Linked DNA regions of Homo sapiens. The protein of the gene in region 2 interacts with the protein of the main gene of each other region in a pairwise test. Each region holds a gene or a part of one and is shown on either strand. Other genes may lie near its edges.

The links. The genes of interacting proteins can lie anywhere in the genome.
Region 1: the proteins of TASOR2 (region 2) and ZNF200 interact in binary tests that used the Homo sapiens proteins (3 or more experiments, as listed by UniProt).
Region 3: the proteins of TASOR2 (region 2) and IRF2 interact in binary tests that used the Homo sapiens proteins (3 or more experiments, as listed by UniProt).

Annotation. Positions count from the first base shown.
Region 1 is NC_000016.10:3,231,963-3,239,369, forward strand, and holds the start of ZNF200 (zinc finger protein 200), read right to left. Parts: upstream 3,197-7,407; 5' UTR 3,025-3,196; exon of another isoform or gene 2,553-3,024; intron 1,875-2,552; 5' UTR 1,794-1,874; coding exon 1,544-1,793; intron 960-1,543; coding exon 871-959; intron 586-870; coding exon 459-585; intron 1-458. UniProt on the Homo sapiens protein: Localizes protein arginine N-methyltransferase PRMT3 to the nucleus.
Region 2 is NC_000010.11:5,743,604-5,751,135, forward strand, and holds part of TASOR2 (protein TASOR 2), read left to right. Parts: intron 1-2,575; coding exon 2,576-6,424; intron 6,425-7,532.
Region 3 is NC_000004.12:184,464,355-184,471,886, reverse strand, and holds part of IRF2 (interferon regulatory factor 2), read left to right. Parts: intron 1-7,532. UniProt on the Homo sapiens protein: Specifically binds to the upstream regulatory region of type I IFN and IFN-inducible MHC class I genes (the interferon consensus sequence (ICS)) and represses those genes. Also acts as an activator for several genes including H4 and IL7.

The DNA.
Region 1 (7,407 bases), on a different chromosome or scaffold from region 2:
ACAGCATATAAGTGCTCATTAAGTGTTAAACATTACTTTCACCAATAGTGGAATATATTTTCACTTAGGCTAGTAGTCTTCACATCTATTGAACATCAAAAAGGGGAGGGGGATTACAAGAGTTAGTCATGTGTTCAATGAAAACATTCAAATATACCTGTTGAGAACAGAGTTCAGAAAATGGGTTCAGAACAGTTTCTATATCCACAGTTTCTATGTCTGCAGGTTTTCCCTACCTCTCCCCTCACTGCCCCCAAGATACAGGGAAAAATGGCCACCCACCCACAGCTGGAGTTCTGTGGCAAGGCTCTGCTACATTGAATAAAACAAAAGTAAAATAAAATGTGTGTGTGCACATAGGCTTACCAGGTGTGAATCGTCCCCCAAAGCTAAAGAGATGAAGGACATGCTTTTCCCAAAGCAAACAACCTGAACACACAAAGGCTGTGATTTCTTACCCAGTAACATCATTTCCCCGACACTGCTGTCATCTTCCTTCTCTGACGTGAGTTGTTGAGTAGGATCCAAGCTCACACATTCTTCCTGGCAGTGAAATACATTCAAATCCTCAAAGACCACCAGCTCCTGAAAGAGCAAGAGGCCCCTTTCATCTTAGTAACTGAGGTTCACTGACAGCCCTACTGGTAAGAAAAGCTGACACACAAAGATCAAGGGAAGGGATAGCAAGAGGGACCTATAAATCCCACAGAGGTGCAGCAAAGACAGGACAGCCAGGCTGAGAAGGGCTCAAGGAAAAAGCAGAAGAAAAACACCCAAGAAGGCCAACTCCTAAGAATGTGTTTTTACACACAGGTTGGCCAAGCACGGAAGGTGATGGATTCAGGCAGTAAATGGGAAAACCAAACCCACCTCAGGGTTAGCTTTCAAATACAGAGACACTGTCTCTTGTTCCTTTTGGACTCCTTTGGGCAGAAGCTTCACCAAGGGACGAGGATGCACTGGGGAAAGAGGAAGGTTTAGTTAGTGAAAAACTCAGTGACTCTAACACAGAGACTCCCCATACCGCGAGGCCAGGCTGTCCTCATTCCTTTGACAGGTAACTCATGGCCTTTTCTGCTCCTGTGAGCCCTTATAGAGTTCAAGCCATAAACTCTAGGGTCTTGAACCTATGGCATCTCCCTGTTATGAAAAGAATGACTTCTCTAAGCACCTTTCAGAATTTCCCATAGAGTATTACTAAAGGAGAGCTTAGGGCAACGTAAAGTGTGAAGATGCCCAGAAAAAGCACAAAATTTCTAAAATTCCACATCAACCTAACTCAATAATTCATCTGATTTATCCTTAAAAGATATTTCCCTCAGAATGTTTGGGTAAAACTGACACTACAGAAAGATGCACACTGTTTATTCTGTGGCCTTACTCACACCCAGCACTTGAGAAGAACTTCCTCTTTCCAACACTAGAATTGACTCCTTTTCCAATATACACCATCCTAACTTGAATTTATAACTAACACAGAAACCTATCTTAGACTCCAGTACCTCCTCCTCCTCTTCTAGTGAAACAAGCATGTGCTTCTCACCTCTGTTCTGAAGGCTTGAGCTCACATCTTTCATAATAACCAAGGTCTCCTTGACTTTCTGACTGGGCTGGACCAGGCTTGGCTTGGGCAAGAAGGTGAGGAAGTGCTCCAGCACTAGCTGGTGGATGGTCTTGGGCCCGTTAGTGGCATCTCGAAGTAGGTCTTGGCCCAGCTTGGAGTCTGGCGGAACTCTCAGTATAAAGGACTGCTTTGGCTTTGGGGGCATAGGAACCACTTTTGCAGCCATCATGCCTTGCAACCACACACCACACTCGTTTCGCGGGGCCTCCAGAGCCACCTCTTACTAGAGGAAATCTGCCAGAGAGCCAAGCTGTAGACAGAGAAACCAGGGATTACCCAAAAGACCAGGCACGGCATTACTGCACTCCAATATGTGGCATGGCTGGTGAGGCTACATGAGATCTAAAGAAAACGACAGCTGGGATAGGGAAATCATAACTGAAACGCAGTATTTGAACAAGATATGCTTAGGAAGATGTGAAAGGAAGATCCTGAGAATGAAAAACAGAGACTGTGCAAACCTCAAGTCCAAAGGGAAGGGAGTAAGGGTGGAGCGGAGAAGGCCAAGGTCCAGCCTCCTGAGAAATACAAAGTGTGGCCAGGTACCGGTGGCTCACACCTGTAATCCCAGCACTTTGGAAGGCCCTGGCGGGTGGATCGCTTGAGTCCAGGAGTTCAAGACCAGCCTGGGCAACACAGCAAGACACCGACTCCATAAAAAAAAAAAAAATTAGCTGGGCGTGGCGACACAAGCCTGTGGTCCCAGCTACTGGGGAGCTGGGAGGATTGCTTGTGCCCAGGAGGTCGAGGCTGCAGTGAACTGTGATCGCGCCACTGCACTGCAGTCTGAGCGACAAAGCAAGACCCTGACTCTAAAAAAAGAAAGGAAAAGAGAAAGGAAAGAAGGAGGAAGGGAATCAGGGAAGAGAAAGAAAATAAAAGGAAAAAGAAAGAAAAGACAGAAAGAAAGACGGTGTGTAAAACCCACCAGGAATAGGTTAAATCAGGCTTGGAGAAAGAGCAATGGGCTAGAAGACAGGAAATCTGGGGTCAATACCGAGGACATCTGCCTAAAAGCAGGTTGGTCACTGAATCTGGCCATACTGTACCCCTCGAACCGAAGCTCCCTCCGGTGCCCTTTGGGCGGGGAGGCGGTTGGTGACTCTCCCGGGGAGCAGATGCAAGGCCGAGGAGGTGTCCACACACCGCCTGCCGACTCCTCTCCGCCGTCAAAGCTCTGCTGAGAGCGGCAGGCGACATCCCACTAAGGACCGCCGGGCCAGGCTCACTCTGGGGCCTCTTCCGCTGGTCAAGGAACACCTTTACCGTAAAGCTCAGCGTGCGCCCCTGCCTGAGGCGCTCACCAGGCTCCCTACCCGGCCTTGCTCCCTCAGCAACGGACACGCTCCGCTCCCCAGAGGCGGCCTCAGCCTGGTTCCCGCCCTCACGGAGCCCCTCACCTCTCGGGGCCTCTGCAGCCCCTGAGCGTTTGCTGGGGACGGCTCAGAGACTCAGGCTCCGGGAGAGATAGAAAAACTAGGCGCGAGCGGTCGAGCCCTCCCCTCGCCCTTCCGAGTGCCCTCACAGGTCGCCGGCGACTATTCGTTCGCGCCGCCGCCAGTTGAGGAGAACGGCAGGGACTCGGTGCCTTCTGGGAAGTCGGGCGCTCTGCGGCTGTGACGTCACAACCGGTGCCTTGTTTCCGGTGCAGAAGCCTGGTCTCCCCGTTCGGAGCCGGCAGTCTGCGCTTGAGACGTTAAGACTTGAGACAGGCCAGAGGAGCTCTCAGGGCCGGAGGGAGGCCAGGACGGCTGTAGCCTCTCTGTGGTTCTGCCTGGAAGACGGAAGGCAGGTGGTTGGCTCTAGTCATCCACGACGGGCTGGCACCTCTCCAGCTGCGGCCAGTCTAACCCCAGGGCCTGCTGGGAAATGTAGTTCGAATGCAAACAACCAATGGACGACCGTCAGGCGCGGCGGTTGGGGCGGGGCAGGCCCCCCCACCGCCCCACCCCCCGCCCACCCAGCGCCCGCGCTCCCCCCACCCCCCACCCCGCCACCCCCCTACCCCGCCACTCCCCCACCGCCCTACTCTCCCCACCCCCCACCCCCCTACTCTCCCCACCCCCCACCCCCCACCCCGCCACCCCCCACGGCGCCACCCCCCAACCCCCACCCCCCTACTCTCCCCACCCCCCTACTCTCCCCACCCCCCTACTCTCCCCACCCCCTACTCTCCCCACCCCCCTACTCTCCCCACCCCCCCACCCCCTACTCTCCCCACCCCCCTACTCTCCCCACCCCCCTACTCTCCCCACCCCCCCACCCCCTACCCTCCCCACCCCCCCACCCCCCTACCCTCCCCACCCCCCTACCCTCCCCACCCCCCTACCCTCCCCACCCCCCTACCCCGAGGCTTAAAGGAAGCAAGCTATCTCTCCGACCGGAAAATCAAGACGCCTCCGCGGTTTCCGCCTTTTACTGCGGTTCTCCAGTAAAAAGACTGCGGAGGCGGACAGGGTGTGGCCGCCATGGGACTCCGCCCCCGCTCTGGTGACTCCCATAGGTTAGAGATGGGGCACCGACATTGCCCACTCCAGCTTGCTAACTTCTACACTGCTGTCCGCACCGGCCGTCTTGTTTTTAAAGACATCTTAATTGCCCTTCTCCTACTGTCTCGGTTTCCTTTCTCAATTTCAGCTTCCTACGGAGGCCGAACAGAGTTTTGTGTTTGTGCGTTGTATCCACACTCGGTTCGTTCCCCAGTGACGCACTGATCAGGGTTCGGACAACTTGTGGGCAGGGATGGCCTTATTTCTCGATGTAATACCAGCCTCCAGAAAGTTGACAAAAGTAAAAATATAAATGAATGCCTCTTCTTAAAGTTAATTATACCTGACTAATGGCTGACGATGGCTTAAAATATGTTACAAAGAAACGAGTATGAAAACTGTGTGGCACCAAGACATTCTAGAAAAATAAGGAATATCTGCCTTTTCAGATCAAAATTTACTAAAAAGCCTCCGTTAATCAAAGCATTATGGTTTGAATTATGAGGCAAAACAGATAACTGAGATGTCTTGAAGTAAAATATAAACCTGTGTGATTGTATTTTTTAAGAACTTTTTCTTGACTCTGTTAACAAACAAGAAATAGACTGGAAGATAATTGTAAAGATTAGCTACACAAAAGATTATACATTCCTAAGACAAAATGAACCCCTGCCAACTGACAAAAAGCAAAGGCAATGAGGAGCTCTTCCCGAGAGGAGGAAAACTAATTGGTCATTAACATTTAAAAAGATGCTTAACCACACTACTAGTCAAGATTATCACTTTTAAAGGGAACCACATTTTTCACCTATCAAACAATGAAGGTGGAGAAATAGGCACTCCTTTCGCTGGTAGTGTGGTGTGTGAAGTCATCTTGTAATATATATTAAAATTAAAAGTACAAGTATGTACCCTTTGACCTTCACAATCTCATCTGTGAATCTGATGTCTACAAATTTCTTGTAGAATTCTTTGTAGTGACAAAAACTAGAAATGACATGCATGTTCATACGTAAGGAAAGGAGTAAATTGGTGCATTCATACTCTGGAAATTACCCAGCTATGAAAAAGAATGGATTGGAACTATATGTACACCTGGAGGGATGGCCATAAAATATTACATGAAAAAGTTTCAGAGCTACATATATTATGCATAATTATATTTTTGGAACAAACAAAACACCTTGTGTATGTTTGTGTTGAGGGATACACAATAGATTATTAAAATGGTTACTCATGGGATGGCCAGGCGCAGTGGCTCATGCCTGTAATCCCAGCACTTTGGGAAGCCAGAGGTGGGCTGATCACTGGAGGTTAGGAGTTCAAGACCAGCCTGGCCAACATGGGGAAACCCCATCTGTACTAAAAATACAAAAATTAGCCGGGCGTGGTGGCGGGTGCCTGTAATCTCATCTACTTGGGAGGAGGCTGAAGCACAAGAATTGCTTGAACCCAGGAGGTGGAGGTGGACGTTACAGTGAGCCAAGATCGCACCACTGCACTCCAGCCTGAGTGACAGGCACACCAGCCTGGGCGACAGAGTAGTAAGACTCTGTCTCTAAATAAATACGTAAAATAAAAATAAAATGGTTACTCAGAGGGAGGGAATGGAAATGGAGAAAAGGGAGAGATTACACTTTTTTTTTATTGTGTCACTTCATTTAATGAGCACGTCAATTTGGTAACTAAAAATAATAAAACCTTAAAAAAAAATAGAACAATAGGCCGGGCATGGTGGCTCATCCCAGCACTTTTGGAGGCTGAGGTGGGCAGATCATCTGAGGTCAGGAGTTCGAGAGCAGCCTAACATAGTGAAACCCGTCTCTACTAAAAAATACAAAATTAGCCGGGCGTGGTGATGCATGCCTATAATCCCAGCTACTCAGGAGGCTGAGACAGGAGAATCATTTGAACCTGGGAGGCAGAGGTTGCAGTGAGCTGAGATCATGCCACTGCACTCCAGCCTGGGTGACAGAGCAAGACTCCATCTTGTGGGGGCGGAAAAAAAAGAAAAAAGAACGATAAAGATTTTTTAAAACAATTTGATGGAAAAAAAGAACGATAAAGATTTTTTAAAACAATTTGATGGAAAAAAAAGAACGAAAAAGATTTTTTAAAACAATTTGATGGAATCCTGTTTTTAGAATCTAATCCGTAAAATAAATGACATAAATGGATTTGAAATGATACCATAAATTAAGGGTGTAAACACAATATGTATCTCTATAAATGCCTTTTAACATGAAAAGATGGCTATTGTCACATACAATTAAAGAAATGAAATTTAAAATAATAATTACAAAAATAATATTCAGTATTCTAAAAGCAAATTAATACAATTATTTAAGAGGGCAATATGACACTTCCTATTTTAAGAAGTAAACTGTTCATAAACTTTGTAATGGTCAATTCTCAACTCATTTTAAAGAAAAACTCACGCCTGTAATCCCAGCACTTTGGGAGGCCGAGGTGGGCGGATCATGAGGTCAGAAGATCAAGACTATCCTGGCCAACATGGTGAAACCCCGCCTCTACTAAAAATACAAAAATTAGCTGGGTGTAGAGGTACACGCCTGTAATCCCAGCTACTTGGGAGGCTGAGGCAGGAGAATAGCTTGAACCAGGGAGTTGGAGGTTGCAGTGAGCCAAGATTCTGCCACTGCACTCCAGCTCGGGTGACAGAAGGAGACTCCATCTCCAAAAAAAAAAAAAAAAAGGTTACATCATGATATGTTTATACAGTGGAAGCCAACAGAACCATTGAAAAGAGATACTTTAAGTGAAAAGGCAAGTTATAAAGCAGTATGTATAATAAGTCGTTTTAAAAATAAAATGTTAGGCTTTTTTTTTTTGAGATGGAGTCTTGCTCTGTTGCCCAGGCTGGAGTGCAGTGGCGTGGTCTCGGCTCACTGCAACCTCCATCTCCCAGGTTCAAGCAATTCTTCTGCCTCAGCCTCCTGAGTAGCAGGGACTACCGGCGCCCGCCACCACACCCAGCTAATTTTTGTATTTTTACTAGAGACGGGGGTTTCACCATGTTGGCCAGGATGGTCTCGATCTCTTGACCTCGTGATCTGCCCGCCTCGGCCTCCCAAAGTGTTGGGATTACAGGTGTGAGCCACCGCCCCCAGCCTAGGCTTTTTTTTTTTTTTTTTTAACTGGAGGAATATACAATAACAAGAGTTAACAGTTGCTTTCTAGAAATGTTGGCCGGGGGGGAGGGAAAGAGAGTTAATATTGGTTGTCTCTAAGGAGTAGGATTAGAAGGAATTTGTCACTTTTTATGTTTTATAA
Region 2 (7,532 bases):
GTTCCATCCTATTCTCAAAGAATTACATAAAATCCAGTTAAGAATCACCACCTTAGAATAAGAAAATATAGTCTAGTCAGGGAGATTTAAATTAATACATATATACATGCTAGTTTCTTATAAAATACCATTTGTCGTGGTAATATGTAATTAACTATCATCAGTACTAATTTTAGCAATGATTTTGGCAAGCCTGACTGTTCAAATCAGTGATTCCTAACAATCTCCTTAGTATGTACTTACGTAGGCTTTTGTTTTTTTGTCATCTTGTTGAATGCTGTGCCTGTACTTGAAAGGCACACGTGTGCTATCGCACTCCCTCCACCAGTTGGCACACTGGAATGTGAAGAAGAGGATTCTAGCATGATAGGCACTAGAAACCAAAAGCATGTTGCTGCTAGTCATGTGTTGAGTTGAGCACTCTTTCTGAATTGTCAGACTTTATTTTAGAAGCATTACACTTTACCTGTAGTAAAAATATATCGAAATAGAAATATATCAAGATTGTCACTATTTGCATTTCACTAAGACTACAGTCATGGTGAGATTTAGGACTGAGGCTAAACGTTACCAGCCACATGATTGGGAGGGCCATTAAAGTTCTCAGAAGGACACTGACTCTCAAGACTTTTCTAATACTTTGTTCTCTTAAAACTCTGTTGTCTCAGCCCCACACTGTTGACTCTGTTTTTTTGTTTTGTTTTGTTTTGTTTTGTTTTGAGAAGTCTCACTCTTGTCTCCCAGGCTGGAGTACAATGGCACGATCTCGGCTCACTGCAAGCTTCACCTCCCTGGTTCAACTGATTCTCCTGCCTCAGCCTCCCTAGTAGCTGGGATTATAGGCGCCTGCCACCACACCTGGCTGATTTTTGTATTTTTAGTAGAGACAGGGTTTCACCATGTTGGCCAAGCTGGTCTATAACTCCTAACCTTAGGCAATCCACCTGCCTCAGCCTCCCAAAGTGCTGGGGATTACAGGCGTGAGCCACTGCCCCCAGCCAGAAATGGTTGGTTGGTTTGTTTGTTTTGTTTTGTTTGAGACAGAGTCTCGTGAGCCACTGCTCCAGCCAGAAATGAGTTTGTTTGGTTTGGTTTTTTTGAGACTGCAGCCTCCGCCTCCCGGGTTCAAGTGACTCTGCCTCAGCCTCCCGAGTAGCTGGGATTACAGGTGCATGCCACCACTCCTGGGTAATTTTTGTATTTTTAGTAGAGACTAGGTTTCGCCATGTTGGCCAGGCTGGTCTCGAACTTCTGGCCTATAGTGATCCGCCCACCACAGCCTCCCAAAGTTCTGAGATTACAGGCGTGAGAAGCCGTGCCCTACCTAAGACAGAAATGTTTTTAACAAGAGATTTGGAACACAGTTCCTGATTTCCAACATGTATGCTTCAAGACATGGCACGCAGTTTGTGAGCATGGTGTTCCCAGCATTGCAGAGGGGTGTGATCAGTTGTATAATCAGTTCATTTTATTATATGCTCGACAAGGCCATGCTTGAGGCTTTAAATAAAACAAAAAACAAATACCACCCTGTTTATGAGGTTATGAGAACTGTCCTGAGATGATAGCTCTGCTAATGTTTAACCTAAATCCTGCTTGCTACTGTTTAAATCAGTGCCTTTAGTTCAGTTTATGATTGCAAACTGCATTGATAAAGTTTTCAATTGCCATGTACAATAGGTATTCAAATGAGAAAGAATCTCCAGTTTCATGCAAAGAAGATAGCTAAGGGATGAGGGGCCTTTGTTGACTAGAATCAATGTATTCTGAGTACAGGGGGTAGTAATTAATTTACTCTGTTGCCTCATGGGAAAGTTTCAGATGATGGTGTACTTATGGTCTAATTGAAAACGGATGTTAAAAATGTTATTTGCTTTTTAAAAATTATCTTTTAGGCTGGGCACAGTGGCTCACACCTGTAATCCCAGCACTTTGGGAGGCCGAGGTGGGTGGATCACTTGAGGTCAGGAGTTTGAGACCAGCCTGGCCAACGTGGCTAAACCTCATCTCTACTAAAAATACAAAAATTAGCCGGGCATGGTGGCATGTACCTGTAATCCCAGCTACTCGGGAGGCTGAGGCAGAGAGTCACTTAAACCCGGGAGGCAGAGGTTGCAGTGAGCCAAGATCACTCCACTGCACTGCAGCCTGTTCGATAAAGCAAGACGCTGTCTTGAAAAAAAAAAAATTAATCTCATTTATTAAAAACAAAATTGAATGCTTTTTCTCTAGTGCTACACTTCTGGATTAAGCGGTGCTAAGTAGCAAACAGGCTGCATTTAAAGTCTTTTAAATTGTCAGTGGTCTAGTTATTTTTCTTCCAAAAAGCTTGGAGCTCTCTTCTGTGTGTGGTTTTAAAGAAAACAAATCCCACTGGGGGGTATTTTAAGTCTGCCTTTAAAAGAGGGACTTGCTTGATTTGTACCCTGTGATATTCTTTTAGCTAGAAAATTCAGAAGAACATTCACAAACTAAAATTAATTTTTATCTTTTCTGTTCTTCACATGTACATATAATCGTATAAAAAACATTTTATATGACTGATTTTTTTTTTTTTTTACTTTGGCCGTTTCAGGTAACTGGGGAAGAAGCTAAACAAGAATCATTGGAGACTTCTAATCTTGTGCTTTCGGGTATTGGAAGTACACAAACTAATGGACCTTCTGTTCCTAGTGAAGAAGAAATTGTTCAGCCACTGGATAGCACAAGAGTGGCTTCTTACAGTGGCACTGTTACTCAAGCCACATTCACCAGGACTTACGATGGGCCTGGCAGTCAGCCAGTGATATGTCAGAGCTCTGTGTACGGCACCCTTGAAAACAAAGTGGATATTCTTGATGCAGCAGTGCAAACAAAAACAGGTACTTTACAGGACCTTATCCAACATGGCAGCCCCATAAACAATGAATGTCACCCTTCCTTGGAAAGAAAGGATGATAATATGGGGTGTGCAGTGATTAACCCGGAACCAATTACTCTCACCTTTGAAAAAAATGCACATGTACCAATACAGACAGAAGGTGTAAATACTGCTGATGAACGTACAACCTTTAAGAAGGAGTTGATTAAGCAAGTATCACCTGCTGCAAGCCTTAGACATCCTGTATCCACCTCGGAAAATGCACGAACACAAGGCCTGAGGGACATTCCCTCTCTAGTAGTTGCAGGACAGAAGGGCACTAAGTACCTTTGTGCCTCGTCAGTAGGTGGAGAGACACTTGATAAAGCAGTGTGTTCATTACAGAAGGAGACGCCCCTTCCAGTCTCTCTACCATCTGATAAAACAATGGTCATGGAGGCACTATCATTAGCTAAAAGTTCTAGTCATCTATCACCCAGTGAAGAAGTGAGATGCACTCAGGATTTCCTTTCACAGACTCAGAGTCTCCTCGGCCTATCTTCAGAAGGGCTTCTAGAACTGACACAGGTTGAAGTGGACTCATCATCAGCCTCTACCACCTTGGGAAGGCAGTGTTCACTTAACTGCATTTCGTCAGGATGCCACACATCAGGTGACTCTTTAGAACTAAGGAAGAATCACAAGAATGGTCCAAACACTGAAAATATGAATTTGGAAGCGTTTGATTCAGTATTTATCAAACAAACAAGCCTGTCTGTGAGTAGAGAGGTCAGCCTAGAGTTATCAGAGGAAGATTCTGACATTGACTTAGCTCTAACAATATCACCACCTACAAGTCCCAGAGAAGAAATGCCAGCTGGTGAAATAGAGCAATTTGAGGAGGCCCCATTCTCAAATTTAGAACTTCAGGATGTAGCTGAGGAAATAGGTGAACCGGAAGAGGTGGCTCTCACAGAAAGCAGAGAAGTGAGTTCTGCTGACAATGTGTCAGTATATCCCTCAGTGTCAGAAGAACCAGTAGAAAATAAGGAGAGAAAGGGGGATAATTTACAACCAGTTACTTTAATACTTTCTAAAGAAAATTGCACCCTTGAGATTGCAGAGGAAATTAATGTGACCTCTGATTTTCCCTTTGATTCTGTAATTGAAGAAGTATCACCAGCGTCTAGTCCTGAACCTCCAGTACCAGTTAAAGAGACACGACCATATCAGGCTGTGACTCCATGCATTTTAAAACTTCATGGTACACAGTGTGAGAAGAGCAACCAAATCTCCCAATGTGAGTCAGAAGACTTAGGCATAACAGAAAAAGAAAATGTTTTTGTTGGTCCTACCCATCCAGTGGGGCAAGATAACTTTACCCAGGTACAACAAATGCAGGTCTCTGCCGAAATGCCTCTAATATTAACTGATCATCCAGGAAGAACAGGTAGACCAACCCTTCCTGGTAAAGTAACTGAGGAAATTGTCTCAAGTGAGCATGATGAGGGTTTATCTTTCTCAGGAAAGGTGCAGTGCTATGGTAGGGAGTTAAACCAGCCTGCCTCAGCTGCCAAATGCACAGGTGACTTCAGTCCTTCTCCTGAAAAACTGGTAAAATCAGGAAATCCATTGCAGCCAGTTAGTATAGAGAATAGAAATTTGGACTTAAAACATCTTGTCTTGGAGTCCAGTGAACCTCCATTTGGTCCTAGAAATGTTATTGAAAATAAGTCTTTGTCTGACACATTGGTTTCCACAACTGCACCAAGTGGTATAGTGAATGTGTCAGTAAAACAGCAGACTAGCCCTAAAAGCAGTCAGAACCATCTCTTTCCCGGTGATTTGAAAACAGATGAAGGCATTTATCTGCAGGTGAAGTCCTTGACAGCTGCCTCGGTTGATGGAGCTTATTCTACACAGGGATGCATGTGCTCAGTGGTCCCCACGCTTTGTTCTTCCTCAGACAATGCTACATTAACCCATTATGTAAGACCAATAAATGCAGAGCCAGTGTTTCAAGCACAGGAAATACCAGCAGGCAGAATGGCCAGTTTGCTTAAGAATGGTGAGCCTGAAGCTGAGTTACATAAAGAAACCACAGGTCCAGGCACTGCTGGCCCTCAGTCCAACACCACATCTTCTCTAAAAGGTGAACGCAAAGCCATCCACACGCTGCAAGATGTGTCAACATGTGAAACAAAGGAGCTATTGAATGTCGGGGTTTCCTCCCTTTGTGCTGGTCCCTACCAAAATACAGCAGACACCAAGGAAAACCTCAGTAAAGAGCCTTTGGCCTCCTTTGTTTCAGAATCCTTTGATACTTCTGTTTGTGGAATAGCCACAGAGCACGTAGAAATTGAGAACAGTGGGGAGGGGCTCAGGGCTGAGGCTGGTTCTGAAACCCTAGGCAGAGATGGAGAGGTCGGTGTGAATTCCGACATGCACTATGAACTCTCTGGAGATTCTGATCTAGACCTGCTTGGTGATTGTAGAAATCCCAGACTGGATTTGGAGGATTCTTATACTTTAAGAGGTAGTTACACCAGGAAAAAAGATGTTCCCACAGATGGCTATGAGTCGTCGTTGAACTTCCACAACAACAACCAAGAGGACTGGGGCTGCTCTAGCTGGGTTCCAGGCATGGAGACGAGCCTCCCTCCCGGGCACTGGACTGCTGCGGTAAAGAAAGAAGAGAAGTGTGTGCCGCCTTACGTCCAAATCCGAGATCTCCACGGGATCCTCAGGACTTACGCCAACTTCTCTATAACAAAAGAACTCAAAGATACCATGAGAACTTCACACGGCCTGAGGAGGCACCCGAGTTTCAGTGCAAACTGTGGCCTGCCCAGCTCCTGGACAAGCACTTGGCAGGTGGCAGACGACCTCACCCAGAACACTTTAGACCTGGAGTATCTGCGTTTTGCACATAAACTAAAACAGACCATAAAGAATGGGGATTCTCAGCATTCTGCCTCCTCTGCCAATGTCTTTCCAAAGGAGTCACCAACCCAGATCTCCATTGGTGCTTTCCCTTCGACAAAAATCTCTGAGGCCCCATTTCTGCATCCTGCACCTAGGAGCAGAAGCCCCCTTCTGGTAACAGTTGTGGAGTCAGATCCCAGACCACAGGGGCAGCCCAGGAGAGGCTACACAGCCAGCAGTCTGGACAGCTCTTCCTCTTGGAGAGAGAGATGTAGTCATAATAGAGATCTTAGAAATTCTCAAAGAAATCACACTGTTTCATTCCACCTCAACAAACTGAAATACAACAGTACTGTGAAGGAATCTCGGAATGATATTTCACTTATTCTCAATGAGTATGCTGAATTCAACAAGGTGATGAAGAATAGCAACCAATTCATTTTCCAAGACAAAGAGCTAAATGATGTTTCTGGAGAAGCCACTGCTCAAGAGATGTATCTGCCTTTCCCAGGACGGTCAGCCTCCTATGAAGACATAATCATAGACGTGTGCACCAATTTGCACGTCAAACTAAGAAGTGTTGTGAAAGAGGCTTGTAAAAGTACCTTCCTGTTCTACCTTGTCGAAACAGAAGACAAATCATTCTTTGTAAGAACAAAGGTAAAGTGCCAGCCACGTCTTACGTATTATTTTAATTGCTGATTTTAGTTTTAGAAATAATAAATTTAGCATATTAGCCATCAAAAAGAAATCATGGTATGACATAGTATTTAAATTTCACAGCTTAGTCTTTATCTGCATACTAAATGTTTTCCTGCAGGATCTGCCATTTGTACTATATTTGAAAATTAGTATTATGTTCCAGAATTAGGGCAATGACTAATTTTTTTTCACAAAAAGTTACCAGTGTAGACATGCCCATACTTCAAGTGTAAATACAAACACATTCCGATGTTAAAATACAGATTTTTTGAAAAGTGGTTGTAGATTGTCCGTTAGTGTGGGTGGTCAAGTAGGACCTCTTTTGGTTTTGGATATATTTTTAATTTGAATTTGAATGTTAGGATAACTGATGTTACGGTGAGTACATGGAGTACATAGTCCTTAAATTTAAGTAATGGAACCATGGTGAAATTCTGGCATGGGCGGAGCCTGTCTTGATTGAACCTGTCTTGATTCACCATTAACTTCATTGTTTTATCCTCCCAGAATTTATTTCTCTTCTATTTCGGGCATAGACAGTATTTTTAAAAATTTAATTGTTTTTAATTTCAAATTTACATAAAGGTTGCAGAAATAGTACCCTTTACCCAGATACCCCAATATTAACATTTCTGAACCATTTGCAAATGTGTTGCACACACAGTGTCCCATTACCTCTTGATACTTAAATGTGTATTACCTGAGTTCAAGGATCCTCATCTTTTTAACCACAGAACAACCCTGTGCATCAGGAAGTTCATATAATATTAATTAAAGTGACCATCTCCATTAACCTCATCTAGGTCTAGGATCATAGGTGTCTAGAATTGTCATGTCTTCAGTCTGCAATAGTTCCTCTGTTATTCCTTGTCTTTTATGACCTTAACAGTTTTGAAGACTGTAGGCCAGTTATTTGGTGGAATTTCCTTCCGTTTGTGTTCATGTGTTGTTTCTCCATGACTTAGGCATTTTAGATGAGAATACTCAGATATCATGTAGTGCTCTTGTCAGTGCATTCATTGTATCAGGAGGCACCCGATGTTGATTTATCCCCTTACTGGTATAT
Region 3 (7,532 bases), on a different chromosome or scaffold from region 2:
ATTTCAGATTTACTTACCTGTAAAAATGTCAGCATAATCAAAAGTAAGGATCTGTAGTCAAACTGGAAGCAAATTATGGCAAACACATGCGTGCCATGAAGTTCTGACAGCCTTATGAACAATGGTCCCACTTTTATCCCACTTTCTGAAACACTTTATTAGGCAAATAGTGCACCAGAGCAAAAGATGTTTAAACTTACTGGAAAAATAGACACTTTGGATGCTCCACATTTGATGTGCATCAATTTTCTCATGTTACCAACGATGTTATATTTTTATTCTTAACATCATCTCGTACAAAACTGTTGTTTTTAGAGCATTTTCACATAATATCCTTTTGATAGTGAAAAACCACTGTACTCTATCTAAATGGAGTATCTGGGTTATAGTTCCCTTATCTGCCTTATACCAAAAAGGGCTTAACGCAGACAAGAGAATTTATGTACACACTCAATAAATATCCTTAGAACATCTATTATAAGCCAGACACAGTGCTAGCCTCTGTATACTCAACTGACAGCGAGAAAGACAGCATCTTTACACTAGGTTGTGTTCTGGTGAGTGAGCTGACCATTAACAACAAAAAATATAGTTATTACCTTTTGGGGTTAGCTGTAAGGAGGATAATAATAATTTTTAACTATATCTCGTAAGTGTTGCTTTCATGAACAATTGAGATACTGTATATGAAAGAACATTGCATAAATTATGGCAGTCTACAAATGTGTAAGGCATTAACTTTCAAAATTATATCAGATTATTCTTAGTGTAAAAAGGCCAGATAATCATGACTGGATTAGACACTATCTTTCTCATAGAATTTCCAGCAAGGAGGGATTTTACTTCTGAGCATATATAAATAATGATAAAAGATTAAACATGGAATAACTTTTATATAAAGTATCAAAAAAATTTCACAGTGGAATCCGATATTGTCAGTGAATTTTTTCCTGTCAGAAGGAAAGTTAGGTGGTATCCATGGAGACCAAATGATATGGAAATAACAGTGATTGGACCAATGTATTTTCCCTCTTTATGTCAGATAAGAAAATCTTCCCAAGCCTCTCTGTGCTTTAGTCTGAATCTTCTTCACTCTCGTGTCAACTTCTTCATTATCTGTCATTGCAGGTGTGCACTGGGCTGATTGTAGTATTTTGCTTTTACCACCTTTTTTTTCTTTTCTTTTTTTTTTTTTTTGAGGCAGAGTCTTGCTCTGTTGCCCAGACTGGTGTACAGTGGCACACTTTCAGCTCACCGCAACCTCTGCTTCCAGGTTCAAGCAATTCCTGTGCTTCAGCTTCCCGAGTAGTTGGGACTACAGGTGTGCGCAGGCGTGCGCTACCATGCCTGGCTAATTTTTGTATTTTTAGTAGAGACGGGGTTTCAGCATGCTGGCCAGGCTTGTCTCGAACTCCTGACCTCAGGTGATCTGCCCACCTCAGCCTTCTGAAGTTCTGGGATTACAGGCATGAGCCACTGCGCCGGCCTGCTTTACCATCTTGGCTCATGTGCATTTATTGAATGCTTACTGTGTGCCCAACACTGTATATGTGACAACATACATGAAAGTAAATATTAACTGATAGCATATATTTATAACATATATTACAATACGTAATATATGCAAATAAACGAAACTGCGGTGAAATGTCAGTTATTATTAGTAAAAATTAGTTCTTCTTTTCATCTGTATGAGACATGATGTTCCTTCCTGCACAGGGGTAGGAGGTCAGGACCTTCGGTCTCTGCCTGCCCCGTCGGCCCCCTGTGTTTGGCCTGAGTGTAATCAGTGGTCGGTGCACGATGCCAGCTTCATGCACAGTGTGCTGAATTGAGGAGTGGCTCTGGTGGCGGGAGTGACTGATGGAAAAGTGGGTGAGGAAGTTCCATCAAACTTTAATTTATCAACAAAGAACAAAGAATGATGAATAACATATAGGGTCCAGATTTGAACATGAAGACAGTATTTTTTATAGAGTACCAAGGAAAACACACAAGCAGGAAACACAGCTCACAGGTCCCCTTTGTCCCTGGGACTCCGTCTGAGGCTCGTTGGATTCAGAGCAAGCAGCAGGCCTGAAGTCTTGGCATTGACCTTCAAAGATCCCCTAAAAATAATTTTCCCCCTCAGAAGCTCCATCTTATGACAAACTGTCTCTGAAACAAATTGTGTTTATTTAAGTAGACTTCATGTATCCTTTTTCTTTTATTAGAGTCAAAGTCTCACTCTGTCCACCAGGCTGGAGTGCGGTGGCTCGATCATAGCTCACTACAGGCTCAAACTCCTGGGCACAAGTGATCCTCCTGCCTCAGTCTCCTGAGTAGCTGGGACAACAGGCATGTGCCACCCCAAAGCCCGACATACATTTTTGTGTAGAGACGGGGTCTCGCTATGTTGCCCAGACTGGTCTCAAACCCTTGGCCTCAAATGATCCTCCCTCCTCAGCATCCCAAAGTGCTGGGATTATAGGCGTGAGCCACTGCACCCGGCCCTAGTGCCCATTTTTATTCCTCAGAAACACATATGACTTCCAGTCAGAACTCCTGATTGCCTTGAGAAAACTGGTATCATCAAATCTCACTGAACTCATTATAGCCAAAGGTAGAGACCCGTGGTGTGTTGGACAGGCTGGCCGGCTCCGTGTGAGAGAAACTCACCATCCCGTTAGGCTTTCTGAGGCACTGAAACTAGCCGGGACCCTCCATCAATAACTTGGTCTGCTTGGGGATCCAGGGACCCCATGCAATTATTTTAAATGAATAATTGATTTTGTTAAATGTAGTAACACATGCAATGGTTTTCTTAAATGCACACATTGTGTTATTATTTCATTTGTTTATTAAATATTTCTTGACAGCCAGCTGTGTACAAGGCTCTGCGGTGGAAGGTGCATGAACTCAGATGCCTAGAGTGGCCTTTTAGTTCTCCAATCACTTCCTCCTTTGGAAGTTTTCACTGTAAAATGTGGCTGGATAATTCTGTCATCCTCAGGAGACAGAACCTGTGTGTGTTGTGAAAATCACCTGGGGAGGGGACTTTTAGAAATTACACGGGACCTTTTAGATTTGAGACTATCTGTAGCCCCCTTTCCCTTCCTTCCCCTTCCTGCCTTGATAGCGAGCCTCTTATTCACCATTGGATCCCTGCTCCCCAGCCTCCCTCAGGTGTGTGGCCAGAGTAGAAATGGAAAGCCACTGAATCGAGGATCTCTTCCCAGGGCCAAATAGTTGATCTTTTCCTTGGCTCAGATGAAACCTCTTTCCACATTTTAAAAAGCACTTCGGACAGGGGCCTGTGGTCACTCTGTTGGCTCTGCCCACTTGCCCTTGCTTGCCATACAGAAATGGGACTCATGTTAAGTTTGTGATACATTGAATTTTCCTTTTTTTTTCTTTTTTGAGAAAGAGTCTCGATCTTGTCTCCTGGGCTGGAGGGCAGTGGTGTGATCTCGGCTCACTGCAACCTCCGCCTCCTGGGTTAAAGTGATTCTTCTGCCTCAGCCTCCCGAGTAGCTGGGATTACAGGCATATGCCACCACGCCGGGCTAATTTTTGTATTTTTAGTAGAGATGAGGTTTCGCCATGTTGGCCGGCTGGTCTCGAACTCCTGACCTCAGGTGATCTGCCCGCCTCAGCCTCCCAAAGTATTCGGATTACAGGTGTGAGCCACCGCGCCCAGCCCAGTTTTCCATTTTGAAGAGGCAAGAAGGACTTTATTTTATTTTATGTATTTGTCTCTTTGTCCAGGAAGGCCATGGAGAATTAGGCGTTTGGTTTTGTTTTGTTTCTATTTTGGTTTATAACTCCTTTATCAGTTTAGTATTCCCTTCTGATAAGCAAGAAAGAGCGGAGTTGACAAAGAATGGCTGCAGATGAGAAGCAGGTGTGTGAGGTTCCTTCTGATGATGGATTCTAAGTATTTTTATCCCAAAGGCAAGACTAATTTAGTTCAGCAAAATACCTTAATTTAGGATTTTGTGTGATAAAAGCCTGTCCTGTTTTCATTAAATGACGATTTTTGAGAATTAACTACTTGCTGTGTGATTTTCATAAATAATTTCATTTGGGCATACTTAACACTGTTGCTATCTGCTGAAGGCATTTGATACTCGCACACCTAATGCCATCAAAGGAGAGATGAGTATACACTTTAATTTGTTCTTATTGAGTGTACATTTTAATTGTTCTTATGAATGTCAGATTTTGGGAAGATCCAAAGAAGTACTCTGTAGACAGAATACGCTGTCCTGGCCCCCTAAGCTTAGAATCCTACCAATTTTCCCATTTCATGAGATTGACCTTTCAGATGAGGAGGGACTGCATACAAATTGCTTTATTTCAAGTAATATCTACCATGTTATTTTTGAAAGAATTCTTTTGTCCTTTTTACCCTAGATCTATTGGAAAAGATGAGAAAAATTACAGTGGTGATAAGAGTGTCTTAACACCTAGATATGATGGGTGTGTCGGGTGAAAGGATAGCAATGGGAGGCTGGTGGAAAGTGAGAGTTGGGGGATGGGGTGATGAGAAGGAAAATAGGTGACTAGTGACTCCTGGATTCTTGAATGGGAGAGAGTGAAGAGACAATCAGGCAGGGAGATTTTCTGTCTTTGCATAAATGTCACTGAAAGAGTTTTAGAGATCGGAGGGGTGAGGTGAAGTTGGTTAGGCAATTAGTGATAACTCAAGGACCAGTTGAAAGACTGGAGGACCCTCCACTGCTGACTGTGGGATCAGATCCTTTTATCCTGGGGATGAGAAAGGCTGATGGGAAAACTGCTAGGCAGCTGCTGACATTATACCACCAGGAAACATGAAGTTGTGAGTAGTTGTCACTTGGACATGGCTGAAGTCACCTTAGGGTACAGTGATGTTGCTGCATCACAACGTTTAGGTCATCAATGGGCCATACACATGACTGTGGCCCCATAAGATGATAATATCATACTTTTACCTTTTGCTATGTTTAGATACACAGATACTTGCCATTGTGCTACAGTGGCCTACGGTCCTCAGTACAGTAACCTGCAGTACATGTTTGCAGCCTGGAAGCCATAGGCCATACCATAAACCTGGGTGTGTAGGAGGTTATACCATGTAGGTTTGTGTAAGTACACTCTGTGATGTTCACACAATGACAAAATTGCTTAATGGTGCATTTCTCAGAATGTATAAGTGTGCTGATGTTGATGCATTGTTTGGGGATGGGGAAACTGATACTCACTATGTGAGGCCCCAAACTCAATCTAAAATTGCCTTTGGAGGCAACCACGGAAATACGGTAATAGCTCTCTTAGGCCTTCTCCCCCCGTACTGATCTTCCTTGGTACTGTTTTATTTTATTTTTAAACTCTTGAAATAATACATAATAGATGTATGTATTTTCAGGGCACATGTAATAATTTAATGCATTCATATTTGTAATTTGTAATGATAAATCAATGTAATTGTGCTATTGAGATTGTGGGAGGTAAATATGGAATCAGGGAAATAGAATGGGCTGATAATGTGTTTTCCTAAAGAACAGATGGGATTGGCCGTGCGCGGTGGCTCACGCCTGTAATCCCAGCACTTTGGGAGGCCGAGGCGGGCGGATTTCCTGAGGTCAGGAGTTCAAGATCAGCCTGGCCAACATGGTGAAACCCCGTCTCTACTAAAAATACAAAAATTAGCTGGGCATGGTGGCGGGCACCTGTAGTCCCAGCTACTCGGGAGGCTGAGGCAGGAGAATCGCTTGAACCCAGGCGGCGGAGGTTGCAGTGAGCCGAGATCGCACCAGCTTGGGTGACAAGCGTGAGACTTCATCTCAAAAAAAAAACAAAAAACAAAAAACAACCAGATGGGACAAGTTAAAACTGAACTATGAATTCCATAAGTGGGTAGTGTGGGTCACTGAGTGGGGCACTGAGTACTCCACAGTGACTGTAGTCAGGATTCTACATTGAAATAAACTTTCTGGAATTTACCTTGGTGCTATATACTTAAAGTCTTAAAAATGTTAAGCTCTCTGTTCCAGAAATTCTGCTTCTTGGAACCTACTTACGTGAAGTAACCAGAGATGGGAACAAAGATGTATGTACACGGATGTTTATTGAATTAGCTTTTGTTATGTAAAAACTTGGAAACAAGCTAAATATCCAACAATAGAGACACATTTGAACGAATTACGGCACATCCAGACAGACTATAGGTAGCTTATAAAGCTCGTGTTTTCGAGCAGCGTTTAGTGATGGGAAAATATTTATGATCTATGCTGATTGGGTGGGGAAAAAAGGATATGAAATTGTGCTTCTAGTTTTATTTTTAAAACATATGTGTATATTGGGGTATTTTTAAAAACCTGGAAGAAAACATATCTTTTTGATGGTGAAATTGTGGGTGTTTGGCTTTTTTTTTCCTTCTTGAAACATTTTTGTATTTTCCAAATTTAAAACAGCAAGCACAATTACCAATTACCCTTTTAACCAGAAAAATATTCTCAAGAGAGTGCTAATATGTCATCTCTGCCCTCACCTCTGGTCCACGTAAGGTTAGGAAAAACACACTGGGTGCTGCCGAGGAGGAGGCTGTGCATGGACGGGGCCATTCTCGAGCCTTTCTGCCTCCATGTGTGGAGCAGGCTCTAGAGCCAGGGCTTTCCTGGCCAGGCTCTTGGAAGCCTTTGTCCTCAGACAGCTGTGGCTACTTGGAGACACTTAGATTGGTGGCTTTTTGGTGAGGTTGGGACATAATGTTTTGTCAGTAACTGTGAAGGGCTTGAGATATGATTTCACTTCACAGTTAACATTCTTTATACATATGAATACTGCAGAAACACAAAACCCCTGGGTAGGAGAAAAGAGTTCCTTGTTGATATTTACAACTGGGGCAACAGCCTGAGTGACACTATTGTGTCAGGCCCCTAAACCTTGACCCTTAGGTGACACTGAAAACTAATGGAATGTACATGTGGGCTACACTTTGTTGACAGGGACAGAGCAGCTGTCCCTCTCCCGTCCCAAAAGGAGAGAGAGAGAAAAAAAAAAGAAGAAGAAAAAGGAAAACCAAACAGACAAACACCTTAGCTCCCCTGACATGGGATGAAAAGGTTCCAGGGGTCTTATCCTAACCTTTCAGAATGTGAGACACTTGTAACCTGGGGATGTCTCCAAGGTCTGTTTTTCATGCTTTTTGAAATACACATGCCTAGGGAGATACGTCTTCCCAGCACCTTGGGAACCAAGGTGAAATTATTTGGTCCTCTTGAGGAGATTAGAGGTTTTATTATCCTTTTGGAAAAGAGCATTTAATGTACACAAATGGCTACAGATCTAATTCTCATGGTAAGTGAAGTATAAAATGTTTGTAGGGGAAGTGAGAGTGAACATTCCCTGTCTTCATGTCCTGTATAGTCCCTATCTTCATGTCCTGTACATTCCCTATCTTCATATGCTATACAGTCGCTATTTTCATATCCTATATGGCTCCTATATTCATATCCCATACATTCCCTATCCTATACATTCCCTACCTTCATGTCATATATGGTCCT